Regions from separate parts of the Homo sapiens genome. Here region 2 is reported to be linked to region 1. Evidence: microRNA targets listed by miRTarBase, many of them from high-throughput screens and not tested one by one. Region 1 holds a microRNA gene; the other region holds the end of a gene's coding sequence.

What was found. Region 1 holds the annotated microRNA hsa-miR-6513-5p (UUUGGGAUUGACGCCACAUGUCU, at 5,340-5,362, opposite strand). A microRNA usually pairs through its seed, bases 2 to 8, with sites in the 3' UTR of a target mRNA and lowers its output. Matches are read on the target gene's strand: a 7mer-m8 pairs with bases 2 to 8, a 7mer-A1 pairs with bases 2 to 7 and ends in A, and an 8mer does both.
Region 2: the mRNA of FNDC3B is a reported target of hsa-miR-6513-5p. Seed matches in the 3' UTR shown: 7mer-A1 at 2,544-2,550.

Annotation. Positions count from the first base shown.
Region 1 is chr2:218,274,825-218,281,942 of GRCh38, forward strand. MIR6513 (microRNA 6513) reads right to left here and starts at 5,364; the gene lies at 5,301-5,364. The region is part of intron 2 of PNKD (PNKD metallo-beta-lactamase domain containing); the gene reads left to right. TMBIM1 (transmembrane BAX inhibitor motif containing 1) reads right to left here. Exons shown (of 12, transcript NM_022152.6): 2 at 7,116-7,118; 3 at 5,202-5,302; 4 at 4,465-4,529; 5 at 4,214-4,267; 6 at 3,691-3,741; 7 at 3,111-3,150; 8 at 2,809-2,846; 9 at 2,542-2,629; 10 at 2,180-2,275; 11 at 1,202-1,255; 12 at 1-797. The coding sequence ends at 651.
Region 2 is chr3:172,396,622-172,403,723 of GRCh38, reverse strand. FNDC3B (fibronectin type III domain containing 3B) reads right to left here. Exons shown (of 26, transcript NM_022763.4): 26 at 2,055-6,560. The coding sequence ends at 6,249. Among named protein-coding and RNA genes, the nearest start is that of GHSR, 48 kb to the left of the region's middle.

The DNA.
Region 1 (7,118 bases):
CTGTATAGGTTACTTTGCTCGTTCTGTTATCTGTCCCCCATCCCTAACCCAGATAAACAATACATATGTCACTGAAACAAGAAGGGATTGAAGCAAGGAGACCCATGGGCACAGATCTCTTCTACCTTCCTGAGCTAAAAGATGCCAAGCCAAAGGAATACAGGATAATGGCCTATGTGTCCAGGAGGCCGGGGACAAAGCTCTCTGGCTTTGCTGGGGGAAGAAATAGCTCCAACTACGTAGTCAAGAAGCCTGTGACAGAGGTGGGAGGGGAACCTCGTGACCTTGAAGTCACTTCTACCTTTCATATTCCCTTCTAGCTATCGAATAGGCTCTTTTCATATTCCTCACAACCCCAGCTGTTAGGAAGAATGTGGTGTCATACAGTAGGTGGCGGGGAGAAGACACATCTTCAGCCTAGTCCCTGCCAAGCCCACCAAGAGCAACAGTTAGTCCCTAGCTCCTCCGTCCCCACCAAGTACCCACACATCCATAGCCAGAGAGGCCACCTGTCTCCAGGACAGAAAGGAAACTGGGCATGTTACTCAAGGGGAAGGAAAGGGGCCTAAAGCCCAGACCACAGTCATAGGGCCCAGCCCTCTAGCTTGGAAGGGAGAGCCCAGGATCGGGTGAAAATGGGGGCTTGCTCCTTAATTGCGATCCCCCATCAGCTGCAGCACAAAGGTGAAGATGTAGATGATGTCTGTGTAAATCTGCAGGGCGCCAGTGATGTAGTCCTCGGGGCTGATGGTGTGCTTCCGGTTCCCCAGGACCAGCTGTGTGTCGTAAGCCAGGAACTGCAAGGATAGGGAAGCCAGAAGTGAGAACTCAGGCATCAGTGTCCAGAGCTCATTTTTGGTCAGCAGATTTGTCTTGGGGGCCTATGCGCCACACAGTGCTTAGGGCCACATTAACGCACAGCATAACATATGGGCTCTATACTGTAGCTGCTCACAGTCTAGGAAAGGAGGCAGACACACCGTTCTCAATATGGCTGACTAGTGTTCTAATAGCAGGCAGCTTGAACAAGAGATGGCAAGAGTGCCCACAAAAATCAATGGAATCTCTGGACAGTAGTGAGAGGAATGGCCTGCTATGGCCCCATTCCCTGCCTCCCAGGCAGTCTAAATTCATGCCCCCTTCCCTAGATTCCTCCCCTCATCCCCTCAGCTCCCCTTCCTAGAGTGGGGCTGGGACTTACCAGGGTGAAACAAATGGCCCCCAGAGCAGCATAGAGCATGTGGAGCCAGTAAACCTGGAGAAGAAGGGGACAGAGAATGGCATTAGAAACCTCAGCAAACCACAGGCCCACAGGCCCCAGCTTCCCCCGGGATAGTGGCATGAGAGTGGGTAGAGCTGGGAAGCTAGCTCTCCATGAAAGGCTACTGCCTTTCCAGATCTTGGAGGAAATTAAGACTGGTGATATATCCAGCAGAGAAAGCAGAGGCCATCCTGCAATGGCTGTATAAAACCAATCTCCAAAGCCAGTCAAGGTACACAAGTGTCTACTATACTTCTAGAAAAAAAGCAGTTGAGTTACAGCTCTGAAAGGGGCAGACCCAGCATTCAATAGACCAGTTCCTACAGCCCAGCCTGGGAGGGGTAGACTAAGGAAGAAGGGAGGCCCCCCAACCCCTCTGGTGAGTATCAAAATCCGGGAGCACCCACAGGACAGCCCACATGACATGCCCACAGGTGGCCGTCCACAGAAGGACAGAGCTGGCCCATGGGCAGGCAGCCCTCGTGTCCCCATCCTTCCCCTTCGGCACTGTTCTCCCCCAGCTGAACAGAATAAAGGAAATAATTGGATCCAGAGACCCCCGCAAGGTCCCTTCCACCTAGGCCCATCATCTCAGTCCTCTGGGTTCCTCTCCCAGTCTGCCTCCGAGAACCTGATTCTCAGCTGCCAGCCAGATTGAACCCACCCCTTCCCCTAGGAGTGCAGTGATGCAGTCCAGGGCTTCAGGTGCTCTGGCTCCAAGGCCGCCCATCTCCACACAGAGAGTCTACCCTCACCCAGAAGGATGCTGCCTCCACGTTGGTGCCTTTGCTAGCCAGTCGAGAGGTTCTGGAGGTCAGAGCCTGCCCCGGGGACCTTTGGGGCCTGCGAGACCATGCTATATAGGAAGTCTGCCCTGAGCACTGGGTTCCCTGACCCCAGCTCTCCTGGGACACTCACGTATTGGAAGTAGAGCACAATGCTAGTGACAATCCCAGTCACCAGGAGCACAATTCCCAGGACACAGAAGAGGCCTGTGCACGAGGTGAAGTCCACCTGCCAGGAAGCAAGAAAGAGGCACCTGTCAGATGGCTGTGACAACCAGCCCAGTCAGACTGGCCCTGCCAGGGAGTCCCAGTGCTGCCTCCTAGGGGGTATGGGAATGTCCACAACATTCTAAGGACAGAAACAGGACACAGTTTTGTAGGTGCGGATGAGGAGAAGGGGATCAGGTCTCTAGGGAACATCCCTAGTGTGCCGGGGTCCGGGCCTGATAAGAAAGGGGAGTCGGGGGGCCAGGGAAGGGCCCTCCATGCCCTCACCTTGGTCTGAAAGCAGAAGATGGTGACTGAAATGGATACCACCGCAGTGATGATCATTGCAATGATGACGGCTTTGGTTTGGTACATACTGGGGAGAAGCAGGAGTTACAGACAAGAGGCATTAAGCCACGTATGAATGACTTCAAAATCACCACTTCCAGAGGGGACCTGCCCAGAATCCACCCACGCAGCTGGCTGCCGGCCCAGGAACACCCCACTCCCCACAATACACATTTCCCAAGAGTGGTGCTTTATCCCTGAATGTACCTGGAAATGGTGCCCGTCATGAAGCCCATGGCAAAAGTCTAAGGGAAGGAGAGAGACAAGAATGAAACACTTAAAAAGGAAGGAAGGCAGGGTGCTGGGGGAGTGGCCATGGTGGCCTCTGCCAGAGCTGGGGAACGCCACCAAGTTGGAAAGAGGCAGCCACAGAGGAGATCAGAACAGGCGGCCCAGATAAGGTGGAGGAGACAGCCAGGACATCCTTCTGAAATGGGTCCCCATCCCTTCCCTGGGAGCAGTCTCCCTCACAGCATCTCCACACCCTCCTGCCACCCTTCTAGACTTACAAAAAGGGTCAGCAGAATGATGTTCCATGGGAAACGGCGTCTGAAGGGAAAGAGAAGCCTTGATTAAATGACTTGGGGCCCCTCAGGCGTCAGAGGCTCCTACAGCAGAAGGAAGCGCTTGGCTCCTGTGCCTGGAGGATTAAGCCTTGACTCCAAGGAGGGAGGTTGGCATGGCCTTTGGCACCTGTTCAGGTGTGGTACGCAGGGACAACATGGGCCAATGAGACAGACCTGTGTTGTGGCGCCAGAAACACCTGGATTGGTTTGCAACTCTTAAACTGACTGCCTGTGTGATGGGGAGAAAGTTACTCAGCCTCTTTGAGCCTCGGGTTCTTCCTATTTGTTAACTGGCTAAAATGCTACCTGTCTTGCAGGGTTACTATAAGAGTGACAGCTAGTTAGCTCCTAAACACACATGGTCCTTTGTATACACCTGAACAGTAGCTGTCATCGTCATCCTCCTCCTCATTTCTTGTAAGTTTCCATTCAGCTGCTATAAAGGAATCCTTCTTTCCAAAATACTCGGCCCCCATCCCAATCCCTGTCACCCCTCTCACTGTGTTAAGTCTCTGGGACTCACCTGGGTCCCTGGCAGCAGGCAAGGATCAGGTAGGTGACAACGAAGACAGCACTAGGGACAAAGAGATGGGGAAGCAGTTCAGGCCCAAATCTGCCCCGCTTGGCAGCACACACCAGGCCAGTGATTTGGGGCCCAAATAGCCGTTTGGAAGTCTGAGGGGAAGCAACTCAACAGGAAGCAAGAACGAGATTACCCCCAGCCAGGGTCACTGAGATGCTCTGAAGCACCAGGCTCCGGCCAGGAAGGAGGTCTGGGGAGGCTGCAGCTGACGGGCTGAGAGGACATGGGGGCTGCAGCGCAGCGTGCACGCCACCACCAGCAGGTCCCACTCTTGCTCTCGAGTTCTAGGGGTCTGCTACTCATCTGGGCACGCACACCCACACCCTCTGGCACGGGAAACTGGCACCAACTTGGGGGCCCTCTCAAAAAGCATTTTGATCCTGCCCTGAGCAAAGCTGGTCACCTAGAAACAGAAGCTGCCACCCCTGCCTCCCTGCCCAACCACAGAGGAGCACACACTCACTAGGACACGTAGTAGACAGCCACATTTCTCCTCACAAAGGCGCTGACAGGTTCCCTGTGGGGCACAGGAGGACAGGAGTAGTCACCCTGAGGCTTGTCTGCCCCACCCAGGCCAGCCAGGCAGCCCTGGCTTCACCTTCTCTAATTGCCCATGGTCACCCTGAGAGCAGGGCCCACCGCCACCCACACCCCCAGCAGGTGACCCTGAACCCCCAGGGCAGTAGGAGTGGGTGGCAAAGCCTAGAGACTTACACAAAGGTGAAGATAGCAATGATGGCCACAGTGATGAGCAGCTGCACGGAGATGATGGAGTAAACCTGGACACAGACGGCCGGGCATGGGTCACCATCCGGCACCCCTGGCCTGCCCCAGGAAGCTGCCAGCCCCCAGTACTTTCCTCCCACTCAAGAACCCTCCCTAGCTGCAGCCTGGCCCAGAGGCGACCCCAGTGAGATGCCTGGCTCAGAGGCAATGTGCACTTCTTCCTCAGCCCCGCTCCCATGCTCCCTGCCATCTCCCCTCCTGTCCAACACCAGCCTCGGTGACTACTGACTTGCCCTGCCTGGCCACCATACTCTACCAGTATGGCCTCTGCACTCCCAGCAGCTCAGTCTGCACGCTCTATGCAGCTGTGAGATGGAGAGGGTGGGTTACAAGCGAGTAGGATCATTTCTGGCTCCAAGCTGCCTATAGTCTAAAGGGAGAAAGATGTCTGGGGAAGGCGGGCGCTGTGGCAGAACCCACCTAGGAGATTCTCCCAGACTGAATGTGTCCTCCCAAAACATGGTCAAGAAGAGAGGTGCAAAAAGAGAGGGAACCCTGGGGTTAGAGAAGCCAGGTGCCCCTCTGAGAAGCAGACAAGGCTAGAGAAGACAGGCAGCCAGTGTATTTCATGGAATTGATGCCCTGGGGCTACTGTGGCCTACCCACTTCCCATTCCCACAGCCTGAGGGGCCCCAGGTACACCCACCTCCCAGCGCGTATCTTACCTTTCGGATAAAAGTGTGTCGCACTTTCCGGTCATCCCACTCTCCAGGCCCGAAGCTATCACTCACTGCTCTCTCCTCCCCATCATAGCCATGGCCTGGGCCTAGGGACAGATGACACTTGACTCAGCTGGGGACCTGAGACATGTGGCGTCAATCCCAAAGCCTCCCTGACAATCTCAAAGTCTCAGGGATCTCCAGCCAAAAGACAAGTGTTATAACAGGAACTCTTCTCCCAAGCTGGGGTCTTCTAGACACCCTCAGAGTGACCCAGAGCCGGCCTGTCACGAGGGGGCTTAGGTGGGAAACGTTCCTCACGTGCATCTGTGGAGGGCTCCTGTGTGCCCAGCCCACGCCACTGGGGGTTCACTGGGGGGTCACGATGTAGTGGGGAAGCCAGGCAGGAGCAGGTATGGGCATCCACTGGGGCAGCCAGCCAGGGCAGAACAGGGGATGGGGACAGAGGGTAGGAGAAAAGGAGGGCGGCAGAGCGCAGTTTGTGCAGCAGCAGGGATAGAGGTGAAGACAGGGATCTGCATCAGCCTCACAGAGGCAGGTGTGCAAAGGGTGTGCGTGACTGTGCAGGACCCATGCGCAGATCCGCACCAGCGCACATGTCCAGGTGAGAGCTGGCTGACACCCCTCTGGGGTTCAGAGATGCTGCAGGGCTGCAAACATTCCCTGAATGCCTGAATGCCTGAATGCCTCTTTGGGAACTACTTTTAAAATCCACGCTTGAGCCACCCAGGAAGACTCACTGCACTCTAACTTCACCTCATTTCCTTTTTTTTTTTTTTTTTTTTTTTGAGATGGAGTTTCGGTCTTGTTGCCCAAGCTGGAGTGCAAAGGCGTGATCTCGGCTCACCGCAACCTCCACCTCCCGGGTTCAAGCAATTCTCCTGCCTTAGCCTCCTGAGTAGCTGGGATTACAGACGCATGCCACCACGCCCGGCTCATTTTTTGTATTTTTGGTAGAGACAGGGTTTCACCATGTTGGCCAGGCTGGTCTCAAACTCGTGATCCGCCCATCTCAGCCTCCCAAAGTGTTGAGATTACAGGCATGAGCCACCGTACCCGGCCTCTTTTTTTGTTTTGTTTTGTTTTTTGTTTTTTTTTTGGTTTTTTTTTTGAGACAGAGTCTTGCTCTGTTGCTCAGGCTGAAGTGCAGTAGTGCGATCCTGGCTCACTGCAACCTCCACCTCCTGGGATTGCAAGCGATTCTCCTGCCTCAGCCTCCTGAGTAGCTGGGATTACAGGTGCACGCCACCACACCCGGCTAAGTTTTTGTATTTTTAGTGGAGATGGGGTTTTGCCATGTTGGCCAGGCTGGTCTCGAATTCCTGACCTCAGGTGATCTGCTCGCCTCAGCCTCCCAGAGTGCTGGGATTACAGGCGTGAGCCACCGCGGCCGGCCTCACCTCATTTCTGACCAAACACAAGCATGTCCCTGCCATGATGTTTACCAAACTTGGCTCCAAATGTCTTTTGCAAAAGTCAGATTTCACTTTAAAGGATGAGGAAAGTGGTTCAGGTTCCCAAAGGAGTTCCTAAGGAAGTCGACAGGTCTGGGAGGTGGCAGCAGCTTGTTGGCCGCTTGTTGGGAAACAGAGCTGGTGCCCTGAGGTAACCCCTCAGGAGTCATTACTTGGCCCAGCCCCATTCTCCTGTGGTGTGTACGTTCTGGGACATGCCTCATGGATCTCCTTGAACAAAGGGGGCAGCAAGTGGCTGGGGGCCAGTTGCTGAGGCAAAAAGTGGAGGGTAACAAAGACAGAAACAGAGGGAGAGATCTCAACAGAGAAGATGAGAAAGGGATTTAAGGGAAACTAGAAGAGAAAAGGGGCAGGAGGCGGTGGCCTCATCTGCTCCAAGTGCTGTCCCTCCCACCCACCTTCCATCTGCCCTTCCAGGACTCACCGT
Region 2 (7,102 bases), not on the chromosome of region 1:
AATGTGCTAGATGCTGCAAAGTTAAAATGAGGCTTGCTGCCCCATGCACACACTCCCTTCCCCCAGCTTTTGAGGTACTAGTCTAGCAGTGGAGGTGGGAATTATTTTTCAGTTGTCACCCTGAATAAAGGGTATCTGTAGACAAATTTAACTATTGATTTTAATTGGCTCAAGGCAAAATACCCTGAGAGATTTGTTTAAAAGGCTCATTTTTACACTCCTCCTGTTTAGGGAAATGTATGTGTGCACTCAGGTCAATTGGGGATGGGGAAAGGGTAAGAACGTGATAGTTGCATAAATCCTCTCGTGGCATAGGGTCAGAGAGCCAACTTCTGACCTAAATAAAAAGCACTGGAAACAGAATCTCATAGATGTTTCTTTGATTCATTCACTTATATGGGAAAGCTTATCCTCCAGTAGCTTCCTGAGAAAAGGTGCATGAGAGACAAACTTGTGGGAGTTTCCAGTTTAAAAAATGTCTTCGTGGTAGCTTACACTTGACTGAGAGTAGGCAGGCGAGAAATCTATTATATTTCTTTCAAAATCTTGAAGCAACTGCTTATGTCTAACGCCACGCTTGATTCCCAATCCTTCTATGTGACCAGCTTTTCATGTTGGGGAGGTTCTCTAGTGTTGAAACTTCAAGATGGCGAGCCTTAGTACAAGTCCTATTTTCATCCATTGTGTTGTGTGCTCCCATACCCTATTATTCTAGAAACTCATGTGTTTAACGATTTCCTCTCTTCCACTTTCTGTTCTTTCTGGAGTTCCTATTACTTGGATATTGAATGGTCCTGGTCTGATCCTAATCTTTTCCTTTCTTTTTTCCTCAAATTTTCAGGTTATTTGCTAAATTTCAGCTTCCAACCATGCTACCGAATGTTTAATTTCCAAGAACATTTTCTTGTTAACAGTTCCTTTTCTATAGTAGTCTATCTTTATTCTACAGATGCCTTTTCTTTTCTCATCTCTCTGGAGATATGACAGGTTTTTGAAGCTTCTTCTCCATGTAGTCTCTGATTCTTCCAAGTTGTTGGTTTTGGGCTTTTCATCCACGTTAGACACTTTCATCAGATATCAGGTTATCCTTGGTTAAGATGAAAGACTAAAAAGCTGATAGGGGATTGCTGACTGAGAGTTTCACTTTTCAGCAATGGTTCTCAATTTCATATACACAGTGAAAGCGCCTGGGGAGTGTTAAAAAATACTGATGCCTCTGCAATACTCATTTTATTGGTGTAGGGTACGAGAATTTTGAAAAGCTCTCTAGGTGATATTAATGTACAGGTTGAAAAGTACTACCCAAGAGTGCTCTGGCTGAACCATTTCATTGAAGATTTTTAGATTTTTAGATTTCTTTTTTGTTGTTCCCAGCCCATGAGGCTCTTTGTAATGTTCTTCCATAAGCCTATGTTCACTAATTTGCTTTTGATATGGTGCCTTCATTCTCAACTGTGGATCGTGTCTCCCAGTCCAGGGACTTTCTATTTGAACCTTCTCCTGAGGATACACCTCTAGGCTTCTGCAAGAGTGATGGAGGTGGGTGGGGAGGAGGGACATTTTTGTCCAGCTGAAAAAAAAAAGGGGGAGGGATTTTATTGATCTAACTGCATTTTAAACAGCTTTCAACCAATACTATTTTAGCCTCCTCTCTCTCTTCACTATCACTTCAAAGGGATATGTTGCTGTCAATTTTTGAGCCTTTAGGGTATCCTGCATTGAGAATAAAAACACTGATGCTCATTTTCTCCTCTGCCAAATTAGAATTAAGTTTTGTTGATCATATTTCCAAAATTCTGGTGCCAATAACTCCTCTTTCTTCCCAGTCTTGAGGGTTGAGTTGTGACTTAAAAAAATAAAAAATCCTTTACTTTTAGTGGTGTCAGGAGCATTCAAAATTTGATGTGCTCAATTTGTCATCTTTACCCAGAATAATTACCATGCTTCATATAAGTGAGGTTCAATAAAGTGACAGTTTTTTTTACCCATTTTCCTGAAAAATAAAAGAGATAGTGGGAATTCCTACTAAGACAATCTAAAATCACAAAACCATGGCCATAGCAGGAACACTGTGTTTTATTGCTGTTGTTGTTGTTGTTGTTGAATGAGACCTGCAGGAAAGGACATGAACACTCTATAGAGTTCGTCAGGGGAGAGGAAGCACCCAGTGTGCCAGGTGAACAGAGGGAGATCTGGACTGAGTTTTGGTAGACAGATAAAGTATTAGGCAACAAGGTACATTATCCACAGAGACTCTGATAAAGGATTAAACTGGCAGCCTGTATAGTCCACAATCACCTTTTAGTTGGCCCATGGAGGAAATCTGGATATTTAGCTTCTTTTGAAACATGGACATATGTGATTGTGGCTCACAGTCCTCCAAGGCCTTGGTCAGCAAGAGCTGAGCTGCTGCTGTCTCTGCAGAAGGCCACCTGCCTGGCCTCCAAAAACACGTGAATTTTCAACTAATCTGAATGTGCTTTAAGTATTTAAAAGGGAAGAATAAGGCTGGGTGCGGGGGCTCACACCTGTAATCCCAGCACTTTGGGAGGCCGAGGCGGGCAGATCACGAGGTCAGATCGAGACCATCTTGGCCAACATGGTGAAACCCCGACTCTACTAAAATTAAAAAAATTAGCCGGGCGTGGTGGCGGGCACCTGTAGTCCCAGCTACTTGGGAGGCTGAGGCAGGAGAATGGCATGAACCCGGGAGGTGGAGCTTGCAGTGAGCCGAGATTGGGTCACTGCACTCCAGCCTGGGCGACAGAGCAAGACTCCAACTCAAAAAAAAAAAAAAAATTATCCGGGCATGGTGGCGAGTGCCTGTAATCCCCAGCTACTTGGGAGGCTGAGGCAGGGGAATCACTTGAACCTGGGAGCTGGAGGTTGCAGTGAGCTGAGATCGCGCCACTGCACTCCAGCCTGGCGACAGAGCAAGACTCCGTCTCAAAAAAAAAAAAAAAGAAAGAAACAACAACAACAACAACAAAAGCAATCCTAGTCATGGCAGAAAAACCCTATTTAAGTCAGAAAGAATTAAAACATTTATTGGGCATAAATATATTACATATACACTACAGATACAGTTAGGTATTACATATAGCATAATATTTGCAAAATCTATACATTAAAATTGATATGGCAGTTTTAATACAATGTATATGAAATAGTCTAAAATTTACAATACAGGAAAACATGATTTTCTTTTTCTCCTAGAGTTGAAAAGCTTGGAATGTATGTCCAACAGTGAGGTAAAACATTTTATCTTTCAATTTAAAGAATTGTGCAAGGATAACATTCAAACACATTCAATTAGGGCACTTCTCAATTTTGACATGAATACTGAATTATTGTAGCCAACAAAACAAGGTTAGAAAATGCCAACATTTCAAGTTGATAAGAACAAGGCAGAGAATATGCAAAAAATCTCTTTAAAAAGTTTTCTTTTTCAACAATTTCTTTGAGGACAAAGGGCAGTTTGCTTCACATGACTGGAATTTCTTGTGCCAGGGATGAGTTTGACATACAGAGAAGAGTCAGAGCATCAGAAGGCCACTCATTCACTCCTCACATAGCAAAAGGGCAAAGAGATCAGGTTAATAGAACACTTTATTTTATTGTTCGTGTGTGATGGCAATATATATAGTTATATATCAATATCACATATACATATTTGTGATAAAAAACAGTGCCATAGAGAGTAATAATTTTCTGACTGAAGGAATATAATGAATACCAAATAATGGAGAGCAATAAAATAAAGTGCTGTCAGCTTTGTACTTCACACACTTCAGCTTCCTGGTGGTTAAATGATAGTATGAAAATCTCAAGAAGATCAAATATTCATATAAATTTTGGCCTAAAGTACTATTTACTTAAAAAAAAAATTCAACCAATTAGAGAATTTCTTTATAGCAGCAGTTCTGAAGTGTTTCAAAAAAGAGACTTCCCCAACCCCCCAAGAGGGGGCTTTGTACTCAGTTGAATTTTCATTGCTTAAAAAATACCTCTCCCCAAAACACCTGCATGGAATTTTTTAGAAAATGCAGATGCTGTGGTCATAGTGGGTCATAGCACACATTTAAATAAGGGGGTGAGTTTTGGAAGGCCAGAACTTTGGCAAAAATATATTTACCTTGATGCCATCAGTTTGCAAAGCTAATTAAACTAATTATTATAGTCAATAATAAAATACAGAACTCTCTAGTACTCACTACGTCAATATAGGCACACAGAATAATTCATTGATCTCAGCATTTTCTTCCAAGAGATGATTATGGTTTTTGGGTACATGTAAACGTTTCAATCACTGATAATGTATTTTTTTTTTGGCATTTAATGCACTAGATGCTCTTATCTTTTTAAAAACATAAGAAAATGTCAGAAGATTAATAATACTACAGATGTTGCCAAGGAACAAGACTGACCTAAAATTACAAAAGTATAAAACACAAAAATATAACATGCTACAAGGGAAAATTAGTACATAAGTACACTTAAAAAATTTTACAATAAATAAAGATTGCACTGTAATTGGCATTTAAAGTACTGTATGCAGAATATAGTATAAATAAACCAAAAACAAAATAATGTTTGTTTCCCCATGACTTTGGTATGGGAATATTATAAGCTAGTACAGGATACTGCATCTTAGACAATAAAGATCAAGCACAAAATAGCTATGATCAAGAAAAACCAAGTAGCAAAAATATACAAAAACAGAAGCAGGGGGATACACTGTGTCTGTTGCACCCTTTTGGAATATATTTGCACCTCCAACTCTTAAATGTCCCTGAGGTACTCGAACATTATGGACTTCATATAAATAATCCAATGACTTTGGGTTAAAATTGATTATCTCATGACTCAAAATAAACACGTAAGAGTAACACTTTGCACTCCAATAGCACCTGTTGGTCAAAGATCTCAAAGCACTTACAAACATTAGAATCCCCGTTTTATTTTATTTTATTTTTCATGCATGGGAAAACTGAGGCACAGAGAGGTAAAGTGACGTGTTCAGGTCACGCAGCAAGTTAGTGACAGATCCAGGGAGAGAATCTAGGCTCCTTGATCCCCAAACACCCTGTGTTTACCATCAAACACCATTCCCTCTCCAACCATGGCCAGGCAAACCCACAGAAATAGGAACTACAAATTTAGATGACTCTCTTTTGGGTTTTATCAATTTTCATCTGCTGTTACATTAGTATTATGTGCACTGAATTAAGGTATTGAAATTCAATCACTTCATTGATACCTCAAAGAACAGCCTAAAGGCAAATGTTTCAAAAATAATGAGCTGACACATAAGAAGACTGCTCACAATTAGTGTAAATCATGGACAATGGGCAGAGGCACTAAACTGTCACCAGTTCTTGTCATATAATTCTGGTCAAACATAACAGAATATAATAACTCTAGTGATTAGATTAGAAGTAGTTATATACAAAGACAAACAAACAAGTTAAAGCAGCCTTTAAAATAGCTGAACAAGAAAACAACTAACTATTGCACAATGCCCTCTTAAAGTTACTGCTATGAATTGATGTGGTAAAATCTACAATGCTCCATAATTTATAGGTGCATTCTGGTTACTTGATTTCTTATACAGGCAGCTCATAGTGTTAAAATTATAAGAAATACAGATTATTAAAACATTTTAGATTAAAGTACACATTTTGATTTAAATGAGCTAAACACAGTTAAATAACTGAGTGACAAAATGGTTGTTTAGGGCAGTCTTATCTGAGTGAACATATCTTCTGTATGTTGCTGTTGCTGTGTGGTAATACTCTGACAACACTGAAATCCTAGCCCTGTAAGTACACACACGGTGATTCATGTTTACAGATACAGATGTTCAAGACATATGAAGTGACTGGTGAATATAAATTACTAAACTGTAACAAAAAAAAAAAAATCAAAGGCTTGCAAAAGACATCAGTGAAAACAGAATGAAGGTAAATCTGAAAATTTAAAGGAAAACATAAGAAAGCTAGCTTTTGGTATCTGGTATACTTTTCTTCTTTTTTTTTCTTTTTTTTAAAAAAAAAAATCCAGTTTAACCTTTTCCTAGTTTTGCATTTCAAAAAGGTGCACCAAAACACTGACATTTTTTTTCTAGCTAAATCTGTAAAACAGAGTATATAAATCAAAAAACAAAAGGGCTTTAAAAAGGGGAGTATCTGAATAAATGTGTGTATTAAAATGTGTAGCATTAATTCATACCTCTAGTTTTGTTGGGTTTACTTCATTAAGAAGTACTGTAATATAAAGGCAAATAAAATGGACAAAGTTGCAAAGCCAAGCACAATGATGGCTGCAAACTGTTCATCAGTAGGCATCATGCTCTTCATTTTGGGATCATCTAAGCTCCCCATGTCCCCTGTAAGCATGACCTCACTTCGTTGTAATACAAAAGCCGCAGAGGGGCTGAAGGCTCCGCTTAGCTCCTGAGAGGTGTCTAAACAGCGACGACACGCACATACGCGGAACCTGTAGTCTGTGTTGGTCTGGAGGCCTGAGATTTGGAATGTGGCTTCTTCTCCCTTGTACACCTTCAGGAAAAGAAGAGTCCTAGTTAATTAATTTATAGCAACACTGTTGTCTCTAGAAGAATCTTGGTTTAGATTCACTCCATTCACTCTTGGTTTATATTCACATTCACTCTTATAACAAAGATGATATAAAAATGTACTTCTCTCAATCTGTATTCCAACCATAAAAAGGGTATTCCAACACACTTTGAATGAAACAATATAAAATCCAGTGACTCGAACTTTGACAGAAGGAGATAAGGCACTGACTAGAAATGCAGCTGACATTTTAAGTAGTAAGGATGCATCTCACTAAATTTTAATAATTTAGGTCAGCGGTCCCCAACCTTTTGGGCACCAGGGACTGGTTTTGTGGAGGACAAGTTTTCCACGGACAGGGGTAGTTTCAAAGTGAAATTGTTCCACCTCAGGTCATCAGGTGTTAGATCCGCATGAGGAGTGCACAACCTAGATCCCTCGTATACACAGTTCACAATACGCTTCATGCTTCTGTGGGAATCTAATGCCTTACTGATCTGACAGGAGGCAGAGCTCAGGCAGTA